Homo sapiens: one gene and its partners. The protein of the gene in region 1 interacts with the protein of each later gene in a biochemical or structural test. Each region holds a gene or a part of one and is shown in the gene's direction. Other genes may lie near its edges. The genes, in order: GAB1, PLCG1, MAP3K3 and GRAP2.

Region 1 (7,035 bases):
ATGAATGTGCCTAATAGCTTGGGAGAAACTAGGATTTTCTTTGCCTGGTGTAGCACTGGTGTTTTCTTTACCCACGAATAAAGTAGATGGAGATAGTCCTGGAAGACAGTAGACAGGGCGGCTGTCAGAATAGAGGAAACCAGCATGGAGTGTAATGAGTTAAATAAGGCTTATTTAACTGTCAGGTTAAATAAGGCTTGTATTTTACCTGTCAGGTTGGTGGCCCAGAAGATTTTGACATTCCCAGATTATTGATCTTTTGGCTTTGCTGTCCAGTTTAGATGGTTTTTGCTAAAGTAGCTTTGACCATCAAAGATATAGACATGTATACGTGCATTTCCTATGCTTGTTTTTTTTATGTAGAATGTTTATTTTTCTGGATAAAGGAAACATTGTTGGCCACCCAGTAGGCAAAATGTTTGTGGATAATGATTTGTAATGAATGGATTTGCTATGAAAAGATATCTTGGATGCTTGATACTATAATTATTAAATGAGACTTCAGGGAGTTTGAGCATCATGATTCTGTTTGGAAATATTTGGCCCATGGGACTTTGACAGTTGTCTCACTGTTTACAGCATTTATAGGGTAGTCCGAACACTGATTAAGATGATCCATAAGGGCTTTTAAGTGACAAAAAAATTGTTTTAGTTTTTTTTAATTAATTTTTTTTTGAGATGGAGTCTTGCTCTGTCACCCAGACTGGAGTGCAGTGGCACTATCTCGGCTCACTGCAACCTCTGCCTCCCAGATACAAGCAGTTCTTCTGCCTCAGCCTCCCCAGTAGCTGGGATTATAGGCATCCCCCTCCACACCCAGCTAATTTTTGTATTTTCAGTAGAGATGGGATTTCGCCAGGCTGGTCTCAAACTCCTGACCTCAGGTGATCCACCCACCTCAGCCTCCCAAAGTCCTGGGATTACAGGCATGAGCCACCACGCCTGGCCTTAAATTGTTTTAGTTTTAGCTTTAAAGCCATCTCATATATGGCCCCCAATGTATTCCATTTACAGCTCCGTTTTATGTTTACTGTTTCATAGTCAACTCAAGCAGGATTGTTTTTTGTACACGCTAGTGTGTTAGTCTGATGTGTAAGCTTTTCTTGAATTTTCTAAAGAATGACACACAAAAAAATGAAAGTCAAGAGTAGTCAGCAGATTCCCCAGCTTTTCCTTCTCTTTTTAATTTTTTCTATATTCGCAAAAGGTTCTTTCTTGTATGTGTTTCATTCTCCTGGAAGTTTTTAAAATCTACTTAAAATGTAGGTGAAAATTTTAATGCTTCTTTTCAGGGTTGCTACTGTGGTGTTGCTGTTTTCATGCTGTGTTATATATTAAACAGCTGCTTTTTTACTTTGTTAAGGACCTGATGGAATCATAAACAGATTACTGTCACTAGGATTACAGAAAACAAGTAAAGTCTTGGTAGTATGCACTCAACAATGGTGCTCAGATTTTTAAAGAATTATTTAAAGAAATGATGGTGAAATTTTCATCAGAACCTGAAATTTTAGCTGAAATAAGATGCAAGTCTGTAAATAAAGTATTGTTTCAAGACAGCTGGCTACCACCATCGCTCTGGAGGAGGAGCTTCCTTGCCTGAAGCCCAAACACTAAGTTTGGGCTCCTCCATAGCCCAGCTGTCAGCATTGGGCAGGTGCACAATCTCAGCAGGAGAACCTGCTTCTGAGGCCAGAGCAAGGTGGCCTGTTAGCTGACAGCCAGCCTGGTAGCAAGGCCCCAGCCAGTTCTTAGGTAGGTAATCTGTACCCAGCGTGGGCTCTCTGTCTGCTCTGCAGCTGTCAATTAACAGGACAACTCTTGTCTGGACTTCAAAAACACACCCCTGGTTCTGGAAATGGGCCTAGAAACAGAAATAGCCTCTCCTACTGGGTGGGCACCTGACATCTGACATGGAGGAGAGGGGCGTGGGCAGGCCAAGTGTCAGCATCTCCTTGGTTCAAGGACAACCCAGGACCTGTGCTAAGCATGAAACCCCTGCTCAATAGTGTCACTACAACAAAGAGGACTGTCATGTCTAGAAGCTCTTCCTATCCTTTTTTGACAATTACCACTAGCAATCAATGGATTCTGATGTTTCTGCTTACAGTGACTGAATAAGCATAATTATTCTATTGAAGGAAATTTTTTCTTGCCATCCTCATGTTAGTAAACATAATTCAGACTCCCAATGTTTTTACCTTTTCAAGTGTAGCAAGAATGTTTTTTCTGTTAACAGAGATCATCAACTTGCAATTACATTAAGCCTTTATGATGGTTAATGATAGTTCATTTGTTGTGCCTGGGCTGAATGATAAGTGTAGAACTCTCCACGTGCAACTTGCTGAATCTCCAAATCTGATTGCTACCTTTTGAGATTCAGAATTACTGTTAGGAAGGTGCATTAGTTTGGAGGGGGTAGTTTGAGAATTCTGCTGGCTCTTTAAAATTATTTTTTTAAGAGATCATCTTGGAACAAAAAGTGGCAAGAGTTATAGTTGGATAATCTGTTTGACAAGTGACTGGTTATTTCAGTGTATTTTGCCATAACCTGCTTAAAAATGTAAGGAGTAAAACACACAGCGTTTTTTGAGAGTAAGTAAAATCCCATATTTTAGACTTAACATAAAAATATGTAGATAAGCTATTGACAATTTGCAGACTGAGAAAGTTTCAGAGGTGATAGATTCTTTTTTTTTTTTTTTTTTTTTTTTTTTGAGATGGAGTTTCGCTCTTGTCCAGGCTGGAGTACAATGGCATGATCTTGGCTCATGGCTCACTGCAACCTCCATCTCCCGGATTTAACTGATTCTCCTGCCTCAACCTCCCAAGTAGCTGGGATTACAGGCTCCTGCCACCACGCCCGGCAAATTTTTTTTTTGTATTTTTAGTAGAGATGGGGTTTTGCCATGTTGGCCAGGCTGGTCTCGAACTCCTGACCTCAGGTGATCCGCCCGCCTCAGCCTCCCAAAGTGCTGGGATTACAGGTGTGAGCCACCGTGCCCAGCCAGAGGTGATAGATTCAAAACATGTGTTAGGTACTCAGCAGTCCTAATTTTCTTACAGAGACTGACAGCCAGAAGGAGCATTGTAGTAGATGGGCTACTACTTTACTTTTGAAGAATTTTGTATTAAAATGTAATTTGATGCACCCACTGATGCTTTTAGTGGGGATGTTTTGCTATAGTGGAAGGAAACTCAGACTGAGTGTCAGGACCCGGATTCTACTTGGTTTTGCCATTACCCACCCACAGGAGCATTTGACCATTCTGATCCTCAGTTTCCTTACCTGTAAAATGGGGGAGGGAGGAGCTGTAGATCTTCAGCAGAAGCCCTGTTGCAGTTTAGCGTTCCTCTTCTCAGACATTTTCTTGGGTGGAAGGGACAAATGGGGAGCTCTTCAATAAGCTGCAACATAAATTTTTGGGGGACATAAATCTTCCTTGTGGGGAAATCTTTACTATTTATCTTAAATAGTTTAGTGACTGCTTAAGCAGTATTCTTTGGGGACTCTTGGTTTTTAACTGAAGGCAGACCTGCATGCAGGGCCTTTGGCTGCTGTGCTCCTGGGCTGGGTGCTGTGTCTTGAGCCCCTGTGCAATGCCTGGCTCAGAGTAGGAGCTCAACAGATGCCTGTTGACTGAATAATAAACAGGTATCGCAGGAGCTTTTGTTATGTGCCATGTGTGGAATGCAAGGAAGGAAAGGCCCACTCTCTGCCCTTAAGGAGTTTCTAATCTGTTTGTGAAGACAAGCTGTCAGTCATTTTATAGGAGCTATGATATATGATTAGTTGCCAAATGAAAGTTTAGAGTGAGAACAGGGGATGCAGGGGTACGAGATGCCAGGGAAGACTCCGCAAATGAATTTTACACTTTGCTTTTAGAAGAGCTGGTGTACTGCTGGCAGCAACAGCAAAATCTTAAGGGAGGGCTGGTTTTAAAGGAAGAACAAAGATTTGTGTTGAGTTTAGATGTCCTCATGAAAAAAACTGCTTCCCAGCACCCCAGTTTCATGTGAGGAGTTTGGCTGTCAGCTGTATCTTCTAGTTTGAGAAGTTTTTGTTTCTGCTAAGATCTAATGTTCCTCATGGGTTCCTGAGCACAAGTGAATTTTCTGCATCAAACTAGAAATGAACAAAACAACTTGTTTGGTCACCTGAACTTATTAAAATTCCAAGGGACATGAGTTGTTTAAGATTTCTTTATGTCTGTTTTAAGCTAAGTAATTCATTCTGGCAAGCAGTTAGTTTACAACAGAGAGGGAGCATGTTCTGGTGGGAGGGAGAATAAAAGAGCCTTTGATTCATTTGCTTCTGAGTTCCAGCAGCAGGACCAGGGCTGCCTTGGGCTAGCGTCTTATTTCGGACTTTGGAAGCCATCTTAGCCCAGCTGTGTGAGTGCCAGCTCGTGTTGGGGGGGAGAGAATAACACCAACGGATCACATGAAACCCCCTCTCCCTGTGGATGGAGGGGTTTCTCTCATTTCACATTCCTCGCATCAACATGGCGCCTAATTTCCACCAAGTTAGAGCTCCATCTGAATTTGCCATTTGAACTTGGATTGAAGTCACGATCTTTCTGTGACTCCTTTTATCTCAGTCTGCCAACTAATACAGAAAACTTATCAAGTCACAGTTCTCTTTATTCTCCCCTCTTGGGGTATAACACACATAAAATTAGCATTCTTTCTTTTTTATATTACCCCTGGCAAAAAGTGGCCCATTGTACTGTGGATTTCCATATTTATTAAATAACTAGGCTCTTCCGTTGCCAGTGGGATGGCTATAGGAGCCTCAATAAATTGTAGATGACAATTTAGGCCTGTAGAATTGCTGAGAAAAGTCATTTTTAGGAACTGGAATTTTTTGCTCATTCTAGGCTTCTATGTTTGAGCATCTTAAATAATAGAAGAATGCCCTAACTGGAAAAAAGAATCATTTCTCTTTTAAGCAATTCACTTATTCATAGGAGCGAAGTTCTCCCTAGTTTAAAAGGTCGCATTACTGAATAAAGTACACTATAACCTAAGAGCTTTTGACCTTCTCCCAGCCCGTTTTTAAAAAGAATTAAGACTATGCACTGTAATGCATGTTTGGTTGTTATCTCTGTTACATTAGCTCTTGAAGCATTCTGATTACAACTTGTAGCTGCCAAGCCCTGTCCTGCAGTATTATCTGGAACAAAAATTTTCCATGTGGTTGTTTTTAGCAGAGCTACTATATGCAAACTGCACGTGAAGGATATAAGTTATAAAGGAATAGAGCTTCTAGAAGGAGAAATGTGAGTTAACTTTTTTCTACCATTTAATCATTCTTTCCTCACCTCTTAGTGTGTGTTTCAATAATGTTTATCATCTTTCTAAACTGAGTTTTCTTTTATTTTTATATATTAGAAAGAATGCCAAATTTACCAAGTGCTTTTCTGATGGTGGTTTTCTTTTCTCCCAGCTTTTTACTTTGAATTCATACTTGGCCTAGGTAGTTCTCTTAAGTTATGTGTTCAAAAAACAATGTCCTAAGAGGAAAAAACAAATGGCCACATTGTCTCATGAATTAAAAACAACATACCAAGAGTCCAAACATTTCAATGTAAAAATATTAAGCCTTTCTTTTTTTAGGAAGACAAATATTAAACTTTGCTTTAACTATCCTGTTGTTTTTCCTTTCCCTTTTTTATTTATTTTCTTTTGGTTTGACTCATGTAGTTTAAATTTATTTTGAAAACAGCTTTATACATACTTCTTTAAGAATACTGCACGTAGGGGAAAGCATCAAACTTCCATTTTACATTTCAAGAGAAAAGTGAGAGGAGGCCATCCTCCTGTCAGAAGAGGGGCAAAATGTCAAATAATACCAAGGTCTTCTAACTTACTTTTACATTGCTTGGTTATTTATCATTATTGCCTAGAGATATTTAGCTATTTAAACATGAAATAAGCAGGTAAATGTAATTTAAGTTAAGCAAGTTTCACATTTGCTTTTGTGAAACGAAATCCTGGACATAAGCATTGGAAGAACTCAACTCATTTTGTTGTAGTTTTTGTTTTAAATAGAAAATAGAGACAGGGTCTCTACATTCCCCAGGCTGGTCTTGAACTCCTGGCCCCAAGTGATCTCTTGCCTCGTTGTAGTTTTTATTGTTGTATTTAACTCATTAGCCAGCCAGTTGTTGTAACATTTTATTTGCTAACTTTTTAAATGAGAGGAAGGTAAAAGCACTCTGTGCCATAGTTCCCTACTCTCTCTTTTCCTATTCATTTCTGCTTCTCTGTGATATAAGCCTAGACATCAAAAATCACAAAATATTTGTGTCCCAATCTTTACACACACATTCTTTCACGAAACTTTTCTCTAAAAAGAGAGTGTTAATTTGTGTCACTCTTACTTAGTAATCAAGAATAGAAATAATAATGTTCCAACTAGCATGTAGATGTTTTTCTCTCCTGAAATGCAGCTTTTAGTTACTGCTGTATTGGGAAATGTGGTTAGGCCACTTTCTGACTGGCAGAACTCCTCCCTGAGATGACTACCTGATGAAAGAATTACCTGCCTGTGTGCCTTCCCAGTTCCAGTCCTTAGCACATTCCCATCACTGCTGTGGCCAGAGTTGGAGTTGCCAAGACTAAGGTGCTGGTGGAGGGATGACTCCTTGATTATCGAGAGAGAAGTGCTTTAATCTTTGACTTTTGTAAGAGAGATACTAGGTAAAAGCTACCTTCAGCGTTTTGAATTCCAGTGCTGTTGTGTAGAGCTTGATGAGGAACGATTACCTCATTCAGCTAGGGAGGTATTTTTTGAACCCTCTACCCTCTGGCAAAGTTATAATTGACCCCAAAGTTATGTAGGATTATTTACTTTACATGTTCTTGACAGTTTCAGGTTTAAATGTTTGAAGTGTTGAGAAAAGGTAAAAGGAAATATTGAACTCCTAATAATGTAAAATATTTGGGAAGGTACTTTGTTCCTAGTGATGCTGTTACATAAAACCAAAGCCTTCTGAGTAATCTTTGCTGGGTATGTAGGTCATTTACCTC
Region 2 (2,619 bases), on another chromosome or scaffold:
ATGGGAAGGTTAGAAAGGCAGCCCTCACCTCTGAGGACAGAGGCCGGGGTCCAGGCCCGTGGGCGCAAAGGTGCCTCATAGCATAGCCAGCATTCAGCACACACAAACCTACTGCCCACATTTGGGCTCAGGGTTGGCCATTTGCTAGTTCTGCTGCCCTCTTAAGATCTGACTGCCAAATAAATCATCCTCATGTCCTTTTTCCTTTGACTTGTATGCTCTTTCGGGGGCTCAGGAAAGCCTGTTGCATGGGACATGCTCACTAGAAACAGTCGCCAGATGATTATTCTGCAGTAGAAGCAGGTAGGAAATTTCTGGAAATTTCTCAGGTTAAGCAGCAAGAGCTGTAACCCCTCCTCTGGGCTAACAGGAGTTGTGGGTCCACTCTCTCCTGCCCACCCTCTGAGGGTGTGTCTGAGCAGAGTACATCCTGCCTGGGTTCTTTGTGGCCAGCCAGTTTTGGTGGTGAGCTGGAAACAACCAGAGCCCCTTTCCAGTTCCACAGAAACCTCTCCTTTCAAAAATGTTGCATTCAGTTCGTTAACACTGCCAGGTGCCATTCTGATTGCCTCTAGGACTTGGCAGCTGAAATCTCTGGGCCCTTTCAACACAGTTGAAAGGCCCTTCTCTTCCTGAAGCTCTGTTTCCATAGTTGGCTGTGCTGGGATGGAACAAAAATGACGCCACACAAAAAATTTAAGATAGATCCGGTTCCGTGGATGACATGAACTGATGATAGCCAGTATCAAACAGCGATAGTGCTCAGGTTCTTGTGTGACTTTCTTTTACAGCTTCACAGTCCCAGTTCATAGAGAGGAGGGTGGCTTTTTCCCATACACAAGAAGGTGGTGGGTGGGAATTCACCTGGGCCCTCATGATCCATGTTTCCTCTCTAGGTTTTTATGGCCTGGAGAGAAAGGTTTCCTATCAGAGAAGGAAGAGGACTGTGTAGGCCCTTCTGTTAGGGCCCATCCACGTTGGTTAGGACGTCCTTGGCGTGTTTGTTAGTGTTGACCCTTTTAGTTTTCATCAATACGTATCTCTATTTGCTGAACAAGTGTCTTTCTGGAACACAACCTGGGGAACAGACAGCTCTGCCTTTCTTAAGGCAGCTTTGTAGACCTGAGGCTCACCTCTCTTGGGCTCTGTAAGACATTGCCTTTGCCTCACTGCAAATGTTTTGATTGTTCTTCCTAGTGGAAAACGTGCCAACTCTCAAGCAAATTTAAAGATCATTTTCACTTCAAGATTCCTCCAGACCTGACAAATGTTGATTGACCCAGAAGGCAGAGTGTTTGTTGGTGGGGAAGACCCTTACTTGGGGCCGAATGCTTTGGCATCAGGAGTTGTTTGCCCCATCCCATGCATGCAGGCCGTGTCCCTACAGTGCGACAGCTCAGGGTTATGACCTGTGGAGTCTCAACCCTAACAGCACATTAGCACCACTTGGGGAGCTTCTGAAAAATACTGGTACCCGGGGCCTTAGCATAGGTATTGTTCAAAACCTCTCAAGGTGATTTAAATGAGTAACAAGGGTTGAAAAACCCTGATTTTGGCAGCACAAACCAAAAGAGCAGGCAGGGCCGGGAGAGGGAAGTCAGTGGTACCAGAAGGTAGATGGGCTCCCTTGCAGGCTCCTTGTTCTCCTGCCATCACCAGTAGAACCTTCTGGCTGACAGACCAGGGACAAGTAGACTGGGTTCAAAGTGACAGACCTTTCACTTTCAACAGCTTTGGCTCAGCAGACATGTACACATACAAAGTAGAGCCTACAAGGTCAGGGGCATTCTGCCCCCGCCACAGGACTAAAGACTGCCCTGCGGGAAGATGGCAGGAGCAGTTTCTGACCTCAGTTGAGTATCTGTGGCCATGAGCAGAAAAGGCAGGGGTCTGCCTCCTGACCAAGCACATCTTGAACATCACCTGAGAGCTTGAACATCACTAAGGACCTAGACACTCACTTGTCTTTCAACTTGAGCCCATCACTCACCATGTGAGTTCTGTTGAGGGTGGGTAGAAAGCAAATAGGTTCAGGTTATCCCACCAGACTAACTCGGTGAATGAAAGGATCATGCCTTCTTCACATTTTAATTAAATGGATCAAGCACAGTCTCAGACTGCAACTCCTGTCTTCTCTGGGTACTTTAGTAATTCCCAGGGGACTTGTGCTTAGGGGTTAATCTAGGCATTCTGTTCCCTGCCTGGAGGAACCCCACAGCAACCCCCCTGGCTGGCCGCTCCTGCGAATTCCACCCATAGTATCCCAAGTGAGTCACTGCCTGAGTCTACCCACTACAGCATTCAGCTGATTGGCTTTGCCAGTTGCATGCCAGTTTGGTCTAGTTTCCAAGGACCTGGTTTTTGGGATTCAACACACACAGCTGCTTCCCCATGACATAAGCTGGACTCCTATTCTGGTGTCCAGAATCACTGCCTGGCTCCACTGTAGGTGATTTCATTTCAAAGGACCCTTTTTCCTTCTGTCCCAGGCCTTCAGGGCCACCCCAACAAAATTCAAATGCTTTGGGTCTTAGAAGCTGGGGCTTTAGTCTTTTTCCTCCAGAAAGCCCCTGGGTCCTTATGCATATTCCCTAACCCCCGACACCGCCCCAGCAAATG
Region 3 (7,500 bases), on another chromosome or scaffold:
CTGGCTGTGGGGGAAAGAAATGGAGAGAAAGAGCTATCTGATCATTCGAAGGTATCCAACTTGGGAAACTGGAGAGGGACAGAGAAAATACAGAACTATGGGGGAAAATGGTTTCAGTTTGGACCCAAAATTGGAGGTTCCTGTGGGACACCCATGTCTGTGGAGTTCAGAAGAAAGACATCCCTGAGCTAGAGACACAGTTGAGATTCTGGAATCCTCAGCGCATATGGTAACTGCAGTATGGGAATGTTTGAGATGGCTGGTTGAGACACCGACAGTGCAAATGAAGCCACAAAGAAGGCAGTTGTAAGAAAGGTAGAAGGTAAATCAGAAGGTTGTTTTCAGCTAAAGACTCAGGTAGATGTACTGCGGTTCTCCATGTGTGAGGCACTATTCTAAGTGCTGGTGATAGAGCAGTAAGCAGGACAAAATTCCTGCTCCTGCATACCTTATGTTTGTGGTAGTTGGAGTAGAGCAAACAAATAAATATATAATTTTAGCCACTGAGAAAAAAAAACAAGGAAAAAATATACAAATACAGAATGATGGAAGGGAGGGGTCATTTTGGATGGGGTGATAAGAAATGACTTAAAAGCAGACGTTTGAGCAGAGACTTGAATAAACTGCAGAAATGAGAACATCTTGGCTTGGTAGTTTCAAAGAATGGAAAGAAGGCCAGAGTAGCTAGAGGACAGTGATGGAGGGACAGGATGGAGGGGCCAGCTCCTATTGGGCTTGGCAGGTCATGACAAAGAATTGGGGTTTTATTCTGAGTGTGATGGGAGGGAAGCCATTGGAGGGCTGACAGTGGGCAGGGGGTAGGGTGGCGTGATCTGAATTACATTTTACAGGGATCACTCTGGTTGCTATTGGGGAATCATTTGTTGGGCTGCCACAGAGGAAACAATGGAGGCCAGATAGGAGTCTGGGGCAGTCATTCAGGAGAGTAGGTGGTGGCTTGGATAAGGGGGGTGGGATGAGAAGTGGTTGGATTCAGGTGTGTGTGTGTGTGTGTGTGTGTGTGTGTGTGTGTGTGTATTTTTATTGTATTTTTTTTGGAGACAGGGTTTCACTCTATTGCTCAGGCTGGAGTGCAGTGGCACAATCTCGGCTCACTGCAACCTCCGCCTTCTAGGTTCAAGCGATTCTCCTGCCTCAGCCTCCAAGTAGCTAGGATTACAGGCCACCACACCTGGCTAATTTTTATATTTTTAATAGAGATGGGGTTTCACCATATTGGCCAAGCTGGTTTCGAACTCCTGACCTCAGGTGATCCACCTGCCCTGGCCTCCCAAAGCGCTGGGATTACAGGTGTGAGCCACTGCGTCCGACCTGATTCAGATACATTTTGAAGTGGGAGCTGAAAAGATTTGCTGCATGTTTGGATATATGGGTGTCAGGGAGAGAGAATAATCAAGGAACACTCCTAGGTTTGTACAGAGGGTCTCTGACTTACTATGGTTCGGCTTATACCTTTTTTTTTTTTTTTTTTTTTTGAGATGGAGTTTTGCTTTTGTTGCCCAGGCTGGAGTGCAATGGCATGATCTTGGCTCACTGCAACCTCTGTCTCCCGGATTCAAGCAATTGTCCTGCCTCAGCCTCCCAAGTAGCTGGGATTACAGGTGTGCGCTACCACGCCCAGCTAATTTTTTATTTTTAGTAGAGATAGGGTTTTACCATGTTGGTCAGGCTGGTCTCGAACTCCTGACCTCAAGTGATCCACCCGCCTCAGCCTCCCAAAGTGCTGGGATTACAGGTGTGAGCCACTGTGCCCCGGCCTCAGCTTATGATTTTTGGCGTTATGATGGTTCAAAAGCAACACACAATTCAGTAGAAACTGTGCTTTGAGTACAACCATTCTGTTTTTCATTTTCAGTACAGTATTTGGTAAATTACATGAGCTATTCAAAACTTTCTTATAAAATAGGCTTTGTGTTAGATAATTTTGTCCAACTGTAGGCTAACTTAAGTGTTCGAGCACGCTTAAGATAGGCTTGGCTAAGCTATGATGTTCAGTAGGTCAGGTGTATTAAATGCATTTTCTACTTAACGATTGTTCATCTGATGGTTTATCTGGACATGGCCCCATGGTAAGTCGAGCAGCATCTGTGCTTTAGCAATTGGGAAAACAGAAAGGAGCATGGCAGCTCACACCTGTAATTCCAGCAATTTGGGAAGTTGAGGTGGGAGGATTGCTTGAGCCCAGGAGTTTGAGACCAGTTTGGGCAAAATGGTGGGACACCCCCAACTCTACAGAAAATTTTTTTTACAAAGGCTCTACTCTACCTGACAAAATCTTATTCCTTAGTATTTAATTTCTCTTCTTAGGGAGAATTTAAATTTAATTAAGTAATTTAAATTAAAATTTTTTCCTGGCAGGGGTGGATAATGAAAAAAAGGTTGAGAAACACTGGCCTAGTGCAAGAACATGGCCTTTGGGAGTCACACAGGCTTGGTATGAATCCTGGCTCCACTACTTGGACACAGTGCTTAACCTCTCTAAGCTTCACTTTCATCATTTAAATGCCCACAGTATTAGCATAATAACCTTAGAGTTATTGGAAAAATTAAATGCAATGACGTGCCTGTTATATTGATAAATACTAATTTTCTTTCCCCTTTATCCCCGCTTTCAAGAATAGAGATTATTATAGTTAAGGAACTCCAGTAAACTGGGTAGAGACCAAATCAAGTGGGAATATGGCAGGCTTAAGCTTGTTGGAAGAAAAAGAAAACAGGACAAGGGGGCTGATTAAATATACGGAGATGAGTGTAAAGAAATAAGGGAGGCTGCTTGCAGTGGCTCACGCCTGTAATCCCAGCACTTTGGGAGGCCGAGGCTGGCGGATCACCTGAGGTCTGGAGTTCGAGACCAGCCTGGACAACATGGCGAAACCCCGTCTCTACTAAAAATTCAAAAATTAGCCGGGCGTGGTGGCGCACGCCTGTTAATCCCAGCTACTTGAGAGGCTGAAGCAGGAGAATTGCTTGAACACGGGAGACGGAGGTTGCAGTGAGCCGAGATCGCGCCACTGCACTCCAGCCTGGACGACAGTGTGAGACTCCATCTCGAAAAATAAAAAAGAAAAAGAAAAGAAATAGGGGAGAGCCCAAGGTAATTCTTAAGGGATTTGACACTCAAGGCAAAGCCACCACTAAATGTTCTTAGTGGACAGTGGACAATGACATCTGAGGAAGATTATTCTGGAGCCTGACATATTACACTGGAACAGAGGCCGGAGAAAGGAGCCCACATTAATTGTGGTGGACTTGGAATCTGAAGATCTGAGTGTATAAAATGTTGAACAATGAAAAGGTTGGGGAAATTAATTATGGTGCCTTTAATTTTGAAACATCATGCAATCAGTACAATTGTTTTGGAAGGATATTTGGTGGCACGGGAAAACAGAATAAAATGTAAGCATACTACAAAACAATACAAAGCCATTTTTGTCAAACGCCTATCTAGGTAGGAAATAGATTATCTCTGGGGTGGGATCTTTTCTTTTTCATAGTTTTCTGCATTTTTCAATTTTCCTACAAAAAGCTCGTGTTGCTTTTATAAGAAAAAAGTTATTTTCTGAAAGAACCTCTGGCGGAACTCAGATTTCCAGGGACCCACATGCCAGCACTATCCCAGCCTCGGGTGTCTGAGGTACCTAGACCAGAGGGTGTGGCCCTGGAGGTGTGAGACAGGGAAAGCTGGGCTGGGCCGGCCGCCCCTGCCCGGGGCAAGAGCAGCGTCGGGACCGGAGGACCAGTCGGGGGATGGGGCCGCAGAGGTGGCCGCGCGCCGGGAAGTGCTCAGGCCAGACCCTCCCCACTCGTTACACGCCCTGTGCTGGGCACGGGGAGGAGCAGGACGCCACCCTCTGGAACCACCCAGATCGCTGGGGCCTCCGAGAACCCGGAGGGCGGAAGGCCTGAGGGCCCCCTGCAGCCGCCTACTCCTCACCCCAGCCCTAAAGTAGCCGGCGGGGAACTGCGCCAGCCCGCGCGCCCGCCGAGCCTTCGGTGACTGACGGGAGGTGGGAATGTGGGCGGAGCCTCACGCCGGAGCTGTGATTGGAACAACCAACACCTCCCAATCTCTCCCAAGAGAGGGAGACAGCACCAGAGAGGGATGCGCAGAGGCGGGGGCTTAGAGGCCTCTACGTGATTGGCTAACAGCGCAGGGAGCCGGGCGCTGTCCCGATGATTGGCAGGCGCTAGACAGCCCTCGGAAACCGCCTTGGCTTCGCCCATTGGCATCCTGTGAGAGTAGGCGGGATTGGTTCATCGTGTGGTGCTGATGATTAGCTGGCCGCTGAGAGTTAGGGTGTTGGGAGAGAGTTGGAGGGGGACGGCGGGGGCTGCCGACTTCCTTCTTGTTATTGGCTGGTGAGGTGGGTGGGGGTGGTGCGACGGCCCAGCGGCTGCCTGGGATTGGTGGGGGCCGGCGTGAGTGACAGACAGGGGGGCGAGCTGCGCGACCAGCGGTTTGTTTTTCGGAGCGTTCCTGAGGTGGAGAACGGTGGCCGGACGGAGAGACTGCGGGTCTGAGGGACTGGCGGGCGGGCGGGCCGAGCGGCGCCGCCGAGGCCGGGCTGGGCCGAGCCCAGGAGCGCCCGGGATGTAGCGGGCCACCCTGCCGATGCCACAGCGCCCGGCCGCGGGCGGAGCCGGAGCCGGAGCCTGGGGAGGCGGCGGGGGCCCAGAGCGCAGCCCGCGCCCCCCGCGCGGAGCCAGGCCCGCTGCCGTCCCCGCCGCCCGGGCCCCCGGCATGCAGCCCCGGCTGCGGAGGTGACACTCACGGACCTTAGCCACCGCCGCCGCCATCGCCACCATGGGTAAGTGTCGCCACCGCCCCGGCCTGTGCCCGCGCTGCTTCGCGACGCCCCGCCCCAGGCTGAGGGAGGAGGACCCTGGGCCACCGCCTGACAGGCATGGACAGCCCGCCCGGCCCGGGGCTGCGGACCGCCGGCCGGCCGGCCGCCCGCCCCGCTCGCGCGCCGCGGCCCGGGCGGGGGTTCTGGCTCCGCGGGGCGGCCCGGCCGGCAGAGCCCGCTCGGCAGCCCTCCTTCTGGGCGGCGCGGCGGGCGCATCCCGGGGAAGCGGCGGCGGGACCGAGGGCCCGTGCTCCGCGGGGCAGCCTGGTCCGAACGAGCCGGACCGCGAGCCCGAGGGCGGGGGAGCAAGAGCGCAGTGTGGGGCCCGGGCTGGAGGCTGCCGCAGGCCCAGCTGCTGTTGTGTCTTTTCCTTGATTTGCTTTTTTTTCCTGCCTGTGTCATTTCCTTCCCTTTGCTCACACAGGCCGGCCTGTGAGAGTTCCCGGGGCTTGCTCTCCAGCCCTGTGCGCGCCCCAGCGCAGGGGGGAGGGCGTGCGGGGCTCGGCTAGGAGGCGATTAAACTGGAGCTGTGATCAAGCGCGCGGTTGACAAATGCGTGCTGCACGCAGATTGCTGGGGGTCAGGAGTTGGTCGGATGCTGCCAGTTAGAATTCACATCCTACTTTTTGAAAAATCCCGTTGCAGGGGTTTAATCCATTATTTTTTTCTTGCGGTATCCCTGAAATTATGTAACTTTTGAAAGAAACATTTGCTACACAAAAGAATTTCTCTGAAATCACTTCCTTTTTGTCAGTATTTACAATTTCTACTGTGAAGATGTAATCTAAGGAAAGCTTTTAATGTCTTCCGCACGTAGCATTTGAGTTGAATTATATTCCATATCCTTTTTGGTAGTTTAGCAAATGACTACTGGACTAGACTAAGAAATAACATTTTAAACGTTCTTTACTTCTCCTGCCCAGACAGGTGTTGTGATACTGTTGTCACAAGTTTTGCAAAATATTTGGTATTGCCCTAAATAATAATAAAAGGGTAAACTTCAGTGAGAGGATCGTTTGCAAAACGTTCCGTTGCTTCTGTGAAGTGCCCCATGTGAAGAGGGAGCCTTAATGTTTGCCTTGCCCTATAGCAAGGTCAAGTCCTTTTTGTAGGAGGTTAACTGTACGCTATGTCAAATTCGCCAGATATTGTTTTGTGACCCATCTCTACACCCTGGCTTTGAATGAATTGCCTTGTTCTAGTTCATGCTGTCCCTCATACAGTATGAGAAGGGTTTGTTCATTTGCTGGGCTTACTGTTTCCTTCTCATGCTTTCCTTCAGAAGTGCGTGCTCTTCTGAGGGAAGGTCTGCTGTGAGAGTGGACATAAAAGGAACCCAGTAAGGCCTGGTATTTAAATATATAATTGAAGAAATGTTTATTGAATTTTTTTATAGATGAGACACAGAATTCTTGTCTACCCCAGGATTCAAACATTTATCTTGTATTATAGATTTTGAATAAATCTTCGAATTGATTTATGAGCCTGTATTGTGATAGTCTTTCTTACAAGTCTTTTTTCTTGTCCTGTGGGGGCAGCTGTTAGTCCCAAAGGAGAGTGTGAAATACTTAAGGGTATGTAGACCATCCACTTCCTACTTTGTTGACTGCTACACCAGTTAGAGTGCCCACATGTGTTGACTACATCTCATTATCTAACATGAAAATAGATATGAACCTGTTTTCACATTTCAAGACATTTTCAAAAAGTTTATAAGTGTGTGAGTATATGGAGACCAATGATGGGGAGGAAGGAAACTATATAGGCTGGGTCTAGAGCCCCAAAGAAAAAAGGGCCAGGACCTCAGGATCTTCTCATTTGTCCCCACATCAGTTGTCCTCCTGTCAGTTTTACGTGAAGACACATGTAAAAGGAACATGCAAGAGGAATTAACTTCCCTGGTGGCTGCAGTATATTAGGCAAGCTAGTTTAAGAACCACTGCCCTAGCTTTCTTCACTTTCCCCCATACAATTCTCTCCATCTTTTTTGTGAGGGGAAAGTAGATGACCTTGATACACTGTTAGAGCTAATATTGAATTCTTCTTGACACCTGGCTGTTCAATTTGCTTTGTATAGAGCTCATTGAGGATATGTATACACAGATACATTCACACACAGTCTCTCTCTTAAATACTAGTTTCCATTTTGGTGATGAAAATTTGAATTTCCAGTTTAGTTAGTTTGCTTTTAGTTGCTGTAGTTCTAAATAAACTCAAAGGATTGATAAGAGAGAAACATAGACTTCTTAGTATTTTAGTTATACTTGTTAAACTCCAGCCTCATGAAGAAAGGACTAAAACTTGAGTCTCTGCCCTGCAGGTTCTTTGGTTAAGTAACAGTCACATTTTCCTGAGCTGTTCTAAGCCCAAGACTGAAGCCTGTTTGACAACTTGGGTTAATAAAAACATGTCAGATTTTATATTGTCTGTTAGCCCCAATGAATTTCTAGTGGAAATTATTTATCTCTGTAAATAATAGGAAATTTTTTTTTTTGCTTTGATACTATGTGGCTATAAAAAATTGGGATTGACTGGTTGTTTTTTCTTGGTCACTCCAGAATTCATTTCCAGATTTAGTAATCATAGTGGCAAATGCTGTTCATAATACCTGAGATTGTTTATGTGGTCTTTT
Region 4 (7,927 bases), on another chromosome or scaffold:
AACTGGAAGAAGAACAGAATGTTCTGATAGTTCAGGCAATAAGTGATGAAGGCCATAACTAAGGCAGAGGTCATGGGCATAGTGTGAATCTCCACTCTGTTCACTCTCCTCACACATATACTTTTACATGTAATGTTAAAGTGTAGCAGTTATGGGATCGGGCTCTGAATATATGTGGCAATGAGAGAGAAGGAGGAGTCTACAGGGACTAAGTTTCTTTTTGGGGTGACCAAGTAAATGACTGTTGCTGTTCACCAAGATGAACATGATCCGAGGGGTCAGTTTGGCAGGAAAGCTGGGGAATTCTGCTTCGGACATTTTGAATCTGAGCAACAGGTGGGAGATGTTCAGGGGACAGTTGAATAGAGATAACTGAAAGAAGAGGGTTTGGGGCTAGGTTCATAGACTTCAGAGTAGTCAGCATATAGAAGGTGATTGAGGAGGCAGATGGGAAGTAGGAGACAGGGTAAGATTAAAGACTGAAGTCCCAATAAACAGTGAGGGAGTTGGTTAGGCTTGGCAAAAGTGTCAAGTGTTACCAGCTTAGTGGAATTAACCCTGTTCAAGTGACAATATGTAAGGGGTCCTTCTTATCTGCTTTCCTCCATTTGGGGGCACAATTTAGTTGCAATACCGTAACATCCACTAAATACAAATATTGCTCTATGGTAGCTTGGTTGGTTTTCTCCTTTAATTTTTTGAACTTGAGGTTCTATAAAAGTGAACACAGTTTGCTTCACCTGACTTCCCGGACACCATTTCTCCTTCTCATCTCCTTGACTCATCCGTTCTCAATTCTATGACCTCTCAACTTTGAAGGAGCCCATTCTCTAACCTCTTGTCTTCTCTATCTATATTCACTCCACAGGTAGTGTTATCCACTTGCAAAGCGGTAAATACTCTTCGATTCTGACAACTCTCAAGGTTTTCTCTTCAGCTTCTCCTGACCTCCAAACTCGTGTATCTAACTACCTTGACCTCTACTCCTGGTCTTGCCTTCCAAACCTTCTCTCCCACGGTCTCTCCTGTCTCAGTAAATGACACATCCTTGCTTCTAGGTTCTCAGGCCATGAACCTGGGAGTCACCTTAACTCCTGTGTTTGTCTCTTATAGCTCTCATGATATCCATGAGCTTACCTTTGAAATACAAGGTGGCTACCCAGTCTAGATAATAAATGATTTATTGATGCTACATTCTAATACAAGATACAATAACATTATCTATGTTTCTAGACTTTATGATCACCCTGTATATTCAAAATCCAACCACTTCCCACCACTCACATCATCCTGTTTTAAGCCACAACCATCTCTGGTCTGGACTATGAAAGTAGCCTCTTTTTTTTTTTTTTTTTTTTTGAGATGGAGTTTTGCTCTTATTGCCCAGGCTGGAGTGCAATGGCGCAATCTCGGCTCACTGCAACCTCCGCCTCCCGGGTTCAAGCGATTCTTCTGCCTCAGCCTCCCTAGTAGCTGGGATTACAGGCATGCGCCACCATGCCTGGCTAATTTTGTATTTTTAGTAGAAATTGGGTTTCTCCATGTTGATCAGGATGGTCTCAAACTCCCGACCTCAGGTGATCCATCCGCCTCAGTCTCCCAAAGTGCTGGGATTACAGGCATGAGCCAACCATGCCTGGCCAACAGTAGGCTCCTAACTGGTCTCTCTTCTTCTGTTCTTGCTCCCTTGCTATCTAATTTCAGCACAACAGCCAGAGCTACCCTTTTAAAACTTAAAACCCAAGTCAGATCATACTACTCCCCAGTTCAAAATCTTCCATTGGCTTCCATCTCACTCAGAGTAAAATCCAAAGGCCTCGCCATGGCAACAAGGCCCTACATGTTCTGCTCTCTCTCTGATCTCCATCCCAACTCCTCTCCACCTCACTCACAGTGTTAAACATGTCTCCACCTGAAGTCTTTGCACTTGCTAGTCCCTATACCTGCAAAAGCTATTTCCCCAGATGTCCATCCAGGAAGTACTGGCTTCTTCACTTTGTTCTAGACTTTGCTCAAATGTCCTTTGATTTCCCAACGTAAAATCGCAACCCCCATCTCAGCCACACTCCCTGTGGCTCTTGCATCATTTTATTTTTCTCCCTAACAGTAGGACCATCTGATGTACCTTCTGTTTCTCCCTTTACCAGAATGTAAGATCCAGGAGGGCAGAGATTATGTTTTGTTCACTGATAGTTTTCCAGCACCTAGAACAGGACTAACACAGAGTAGGTGTTCAAACTTTATTTATTGAATAAATGAAACGAGAATGTCTGAATGCACACTATTAAATAAGAAGTACATATTTTACCATAAAGTTAAATTGAGCATAATTATGGCAAGAAGTTCAGATATTGGCCAGGCGCAGTGGCTCATGCCTGTAATCCCAGCACTTTGGGGGGCCAAGGTGGGCAGATCACCTGAGGTCAGGAGTTCGAGACCAGCCTGACCAACATGGCGAAACCTCAGCTGTCCTAAAAATATACAAATTAGCTGGGTGTGGTGGCAGGTGCCTGCAATCCCAGCTACTCGGGAGGCTGAGGCAGGAGAATCATTTGAACTTAGGAGGTGGAGGTTGCAGTGAGCCAAGATTGCGTCACTGTACTCTAGCCTGGGCAACCGAGCGAGACTCAGTCTCCAAAAAACAAAATAAAACAAAAAACAAAACAAAACAGAAGTTCAGATATAAACAAATGACCCCTCAAAAGGAATTGATTAAAAAAATTTTAAACAAAGTATGGTTTAAAAAAGAAACTTCTCCACTGTGGCTAAGTCCATATTTCACATGTTACTGTATCCTCCTCATCTTGCTGCTATTTTTCTGAGTATCTCATGATAGTGAGTACTGAAATGCTGGCATTCTCACATTAGGGTCTTTATTCTTAGGATCTGCCTTTGCACTCGTTCAGTTACAGAGCTGTTATGAAATAAACCACTCAAGTGGCCTTGCTTCCCTCCCACTATGCTCTACATAACATGTCTGTCAATCAGTACTTACTACCAAAATAACTTGCCTTTGAGATTTTTCTGTTCTGCAATCTGTCCCATGCTTGTAAGGGGAAGGATTATATTCTGCTCCCTGGGGAGTAGTGCCTGGTGCAAAATTAGCTTCCTCATTAGGGTACAAGCTGAAAACACCATGATACTTTCCATGTAACACCATTCAACATTTTCCCTTCGCTCCCACTCCCCAACCATAGAATTTTAGGGACTCCTTTAACCATTTCAAAACCATCGACTTGGGAGCTATCAAAGAATAAGGACTGTAGCCAGAGGATTTCAGCATTTAAAAACTTGGCAATAGAGCTGTTCAGTGTAATGATCCAAGAAGGTCCTTAGAAGGCTGAATAATTCTGAGGTCAAGGTTGAGACGTTATTATTTTTAAAGTAGCAAGATGTTGTTATTTTTAAATTTTATCTTTATAATGTGGAAATAGCAGAGATCCTTTTCAGATATAACCAGGATTTAAGAAAATTTGACAAAGTTGCATTAATAAAAAGAAAGCCTGTTATTAAGGAGCTACAGGGCCGGGTGCGGTGGCTCATGCCTGTAATCCCAGCACTTTGGGAGGTTGAGGCGGGCGGATCATCTGAGTTCAGGAGTTCAAGACCAGCCTGGCCGACATGGTGAAACCCCATCTCTACTAAAAATACAAAAAAAATTAGCCAGGCATGGTGGCAGGTACCTGTAATCCCAGCTACTTGGGAGGCTGAAGCAAGAGAATCACTTGTACTCGGGAGACGGAGGTTGCAGTGAGCCAAGATCATGCCATTGCACTCCAGCCTGGGCAAGAAGAGTGAAACTCCGTCTCAAAAAAAAAAAGGAGTTATGGATAGAAAATTACTTCCTTTAACTCATTCGACAAATATTTACTGAGCATTTTCTGTCACCTTGACACTTTGCTGATTCTTCTTTTCTATTTCAATAAAAATGTTGGGCAATTATAACCAAGGAAAAGGTTTTAAGAAAGTAAATTTTAAGCAAGGTTTAGATATAAAGAAGCAAAGAGATGGAAAAGGATGCCGTTTCACATTGCAGAAAAAGTTTAAATTTTAGAACCCCAAATTGAATCTCTCCTTGACACTCTCCTCTTGGTATTCCAGGGATTAATGCTAGGAACATCCCAGTGAGCCAACATTTCCCTCCTCATCTTGGATCCAGTCCCCAAACTCTGAATGGTGCCACTTAGCAAGTAGCAATGTCTCTAATTTTCTGTAAAAGATGCAACGTTGGCAATCCATTTTCTAGCAAGAGCAAAGAGAAAGGAAGAGGCCTTCACAAGTTGCAGTTGATATAGGGGGAAGGGTGAGTGGTACATTTAAAGGTAAGAACTAAGGAAGTTGAAGGTAACAAAACTCAAGGTCAATGGAAAGTCTTAAATCCCAGAAAGCCTTCAGTCTAAGACTCAACAGAAATTGAAGTCCCAGAAATTGAAGGAACTGGTTCCACCTCATGCTGGACTGTGGCAAACCTGGGGTGAGAATGCATCCCAGCTCAGAATGTTTCTTCTTTTTTTGTCAAGAGTAATATTAGAGGCTGAGTGTATGAACAAAGCATCTTTCCTGGGATTTTAACATTGTGAGTGATCGAGGGTGCTCTTAAATAAGTTCCCCCAAGAAGCCCTAATGTTCCTCTGGATGCATGATTATACTAAGAGAATAAGAGTTTTCCTTAAGATCAGCTTGCTGATGGACCATATCAAGAACTATAAATTTTCTTATGTGAACACAAGTGTTCAGGGGGGATATTGTTAAAACTGAAACCAAGCATAAAGAAGCAAAAGTGTTTCAGTGAACCTCCTGCATTTTAGTTCAACTCTGGCAGCAAGAAAACAAAACCACATAATCTAAGGCTCACGCCCAACTCTCCGAAGCCCCATATGTGCTAGTTCCTGTGTGGTTTGCCTACAGACTGCAGGGCTGACTAGGGTTAGTTTGGAGGAGGGAGTAAGAGGTGGGGAGGAGGAGGCACAGTTAATGGATCTGTAAACTTGCACCCTCTTTCAGAGTGGTACATGGAAGACAGCACAAAGTGGATCCATACTCTGAAATGCAGTAACTCTGATGCTTGAATTTGTCTCCCTTCTTGCCAGAAAGGATTCTAATAACTCGGTGTCAAAGCCAAGACATAAACTCAACCCCTTCTCTTCCAAAAGGTATGTCATTATACAACATCTGTACATATACTCTAGAAACTTTGAACAGTTTTATAATTTGCAGAATGTTCTGTATGAGTTAATTAAAATGAATCTCACTAGTTCTCTAAATATTGCTTTTAAGTCCCATCAGCTAAGGTCTCTAAACCTTTTGCTGTGACAATGTTTGTGGTGATGGGATTTGACTTCTATCAAATGAACTGGGAGAACACTTGTTCCTTACCCAGTCCATAACACAAAAATCTCCACAAACTGGCTTCAGAAGCATCTCAGGGAAAGATTTTCGACCTTGGGATCATGGAGGTAAAATTCCACTTCACCATGGTCAGAATTTAATCCAAATTGGAAGGGATTGGAGGGGGTGGTAGAGGGCTGAGCAGTGATGAATGAACACTAGCACTCTGAGGTCAGGATTTCTCTCTTTGCTTGAATTTCTAGTTCTGTTCGCATTTTTGTTACCTGTACAAAGGACACCAGTTTTCATTCCTTTACGAAAAGAAAACTTTATGTTGAAGTGTATTTTGGAAGGGTATTGTCTCTCTTCGTACTAGCCGTTAGGCTCCATCCCTATGACTGTCTCTGGTTTAGGCGTCCAGTCTGAAGATAGCTGCTTTGTGTTCTTTGTCCCAACTCTTCCTGAACGTGAGGATTGAACATACCAACCAAAGGTTTCACTAATTTAAAATGTACTGTATTGCCCTGACAGGTATACTGTCAAAAAAAATTTACCGTATTTATCTACCTGGAATTAGGCCTTCTTAATAAAGTGTATGCAGCATAATTTGCACACTATTGAACATACACATCCCTAGATAAACTAGGAGTGGGAAGTGTTTTAGATCTAAACATCCAATGGGAAAAATTTCGTGTGTTCTCGTTATGTTATCTGAGGATGGGAAACTTCAGGTCGCAGAATCTTTTGTTCTATGCAGCAATGTTTGTCATAAACGGTTTAGTTCTTTAGTGGCTCCTTTTTGTTTCTTATTTTTGGTTTCGGAAAGAGTATTTAGCAGAAGTTACTCTCCTTTAACAATCCAGTATTTTATGTAAAACTTTATAGAATAATTTTATAGTGATTCTCTTTACAAAACCATCTGCTATTAAATAAGGAACACTGTGTAAATAGAGGACCACCTAAGTATATTTAATTTTCAAATACGAAAAAAATCTGACTCATACCCTTTTTTGTTTTTTTGTAAAAGAGAGGTGGCCCTATATTATTGAATAAAACTGCTTTTTTAGATTGAACTTGGAGTGTCTCCCATGTGGTAAACTGAAATCTTATTCTCCCCAAATTGTAATAGATTTTATCTTTTTAAAAATGACTTTACTGAAGCAGAGGAGAAGGAGATGATCAATCTATTCAATATGAAGAAATATCTCTGTTGCTAATACAATATCCTTTTGAATATCTCCCACATCTTAGGCCCTGGTGAAAATCCCTTTCAATTGTTCTGTCTACCTCGTAGGGATGTTGTAAGAATAAATGAGTTAACATAGATATGAAGTGCCTTAGGAAAAAGGCTCTATAAAAATGCAAGGCGATATCATGATTAGTTGTTTCTTTGACTCTTGATCATTTTCTTCCCACTTCTTATACAAAATGTCTCTCACTTATTTCCTGAAGCCATCTCTTTTAGAACTATTGCTTCCTAGAAGAGCTGAAAATGATCCTAGTTCCAACATATTTATTGATTCCCAGATAATAACACCCACTGGTGTTGATGACTGACAGGGTTCATGCCTAAGCTTGAGTAGAACTTGCCCTTTTTTCCTGGGTCAAGAAAAGTCTGCAATTGTTCGAAAATGTGTCAGTAAGTGTGATTCCATCACGATTTCTTAAATAAGTAACAGTTGCTGCTGGATAATCCTGGGGGCAGATGATTCATTTTTGTGCCCCTATCAAACAAACTCAAAACTTGTTAAAGAATCTTTATAAGTTGTTTGAATCAAACAATAGGGTCGCTAGGTCCCCATTTTGTCCATTTGAGGTATTTGCCCAGCATACCTTGGTCTGTAAAGAAATAGCACAGCCTTGGCTGGGCGCGGTGGCTCATGCTTATAATCCTAGCACTTTGGGAGGCCGAGGTGGGCAGATCTCCAAAAATAAATAATAATAATGATAATAACACAGCCTCATGAGTCTTTTTTTTTTTTTTTTTTTTGAGACAGGGTCTCACTCTGTCACTCAGGCTGGAGTACAGTGGCACAATCACAGCTCACTGCAGCCTCAACTACCCTGGGTTTAGTGATCCTCCCACCTCAGCCTCTCAAGTAGCTGAGACTACAGGTACACACCACCACACCTGGCTAATATTGTATTTTTAGTAGAGACAGGGTTTTGCCATGTTTCCCAGGCTGGTCTTGAACTCCTGAACTCAAGCGATTCGCCTGCCTCAGCCTCCCAAAGTGTTGGGATTACAGGTGTGAACCACTACACCTGGCCTGCCCTTTCTTTTCTCTTAAAAATTCTTAAGAAAGCATGGTCCTGTTTAACAAATAAGCATTTTACAAACATTTATCGATCAATTACTATATGCCAGGCCTGGCACTAGGCACCAAGTCCTCTTCAACAGTGTTAACATTAAGTTTCAATAAACTTGAGTCAGTAGGAATTCAGTAAATAATTTTTAAAGATTGTTTTCTTTTTAAATATGTATTTATAAACAAAAATTTTAGAGAATTAAAAGAAACTATCACGAAGTGCATGATGATAAAAGTCTTATATACTCTCCAAAGAAAATGTTAAGACATACCTTAAGGAGATAGTGAAG

The links.
Region 2: the proteins of GAB1 (region 1) and PLCG1 form a complex in vitro, tested with the Homo sapiens proteins (2 studies listed by BioGRID and IntAct, with this or other methods).
Region 3: the proteins of GAB1 (region 1) and MAP3K3 form a complex in vitro, tested with the Homo sapiens proteins (one study listed by BioGRID).
Region 4: the proteins of GAB1 (region 1) and GRAP2 form a complex in vitro, tested with the Homo sapiens proteins (2 studies listed by BioGRID and IntAct, with this or other methods).

Annotation. Positions count from the first base shown.
Region 1 is NC_000004.12:143,339,854-143,346,888, forward strand, and holds part of GAB1 (GRB2-associated-binding protein 1), read left to right. Parts: intron 1-3,606; exon of another isoform or gene 3,607-3,682; intron 3,683-5,202; exon of another isoform or gene 5,203-5,282; intron 5,283-7,035. UniProt on the Homo sapiens protein: Adapter protein that plays a role in intracellular signaling cascades triggered by activated receptor-type kinases. Plays a role in FGFR1 signaling. Probably involved in signaling by the epidermal growth factor receptor (EGFR) and the insulin receptor (INSR).
Region 2 is NC_000020.11:41,175,518-41,178,136, forward strand, and holds the end of PLCG1 (1-phosphatidylinositol 4,5-bisphosphate phosphodiesterase gamma-1), read left to right. Parts: 3' UTR 1-2,109; downstream 2,110-2,619. UniProt on the Homo sapiens protein: Mediates the production of the second messenger molecules diacylglycerol (DAG) and inositol 1,4,5-trisphosphate (IP3). Plays an important role in the regulation of intracellular signaling cascades.
Region 3 is NC_000017.11:63,617,935-63,625,434, forward strand, and holds the start of MAP3K3 (mitogen-activated protein kinase kinase kinase 3), read left to right. Parts: upstream 1-4,482; 5' UTR 4,483-4,825; coding exon 4,826-4,829; intron 4,830-7,500. UniProt on the Homo sapiens protein: Component of a protein kinase signal transduction cascade. Mediates activation of the NF-kappa-B, AP1 and DDIT3 transcriptional regulators.
Region 4 is NC_000022.11:39,896,178-39,904,104, forward strand, and holds the start of GRAP2 (GRB2-related adapter protein 2), read left to right. Parts: upstream 1-4,906; 5' UTR 4,907-5,061; coding exon of another isoform or gene 5,062-5,153; intron 5,154-7,927. UniProt on the Homo sapiens protein: Interacts with SLP-76 to regulate NF-AT activation. Binds to tyrosine-phosphorylated shc.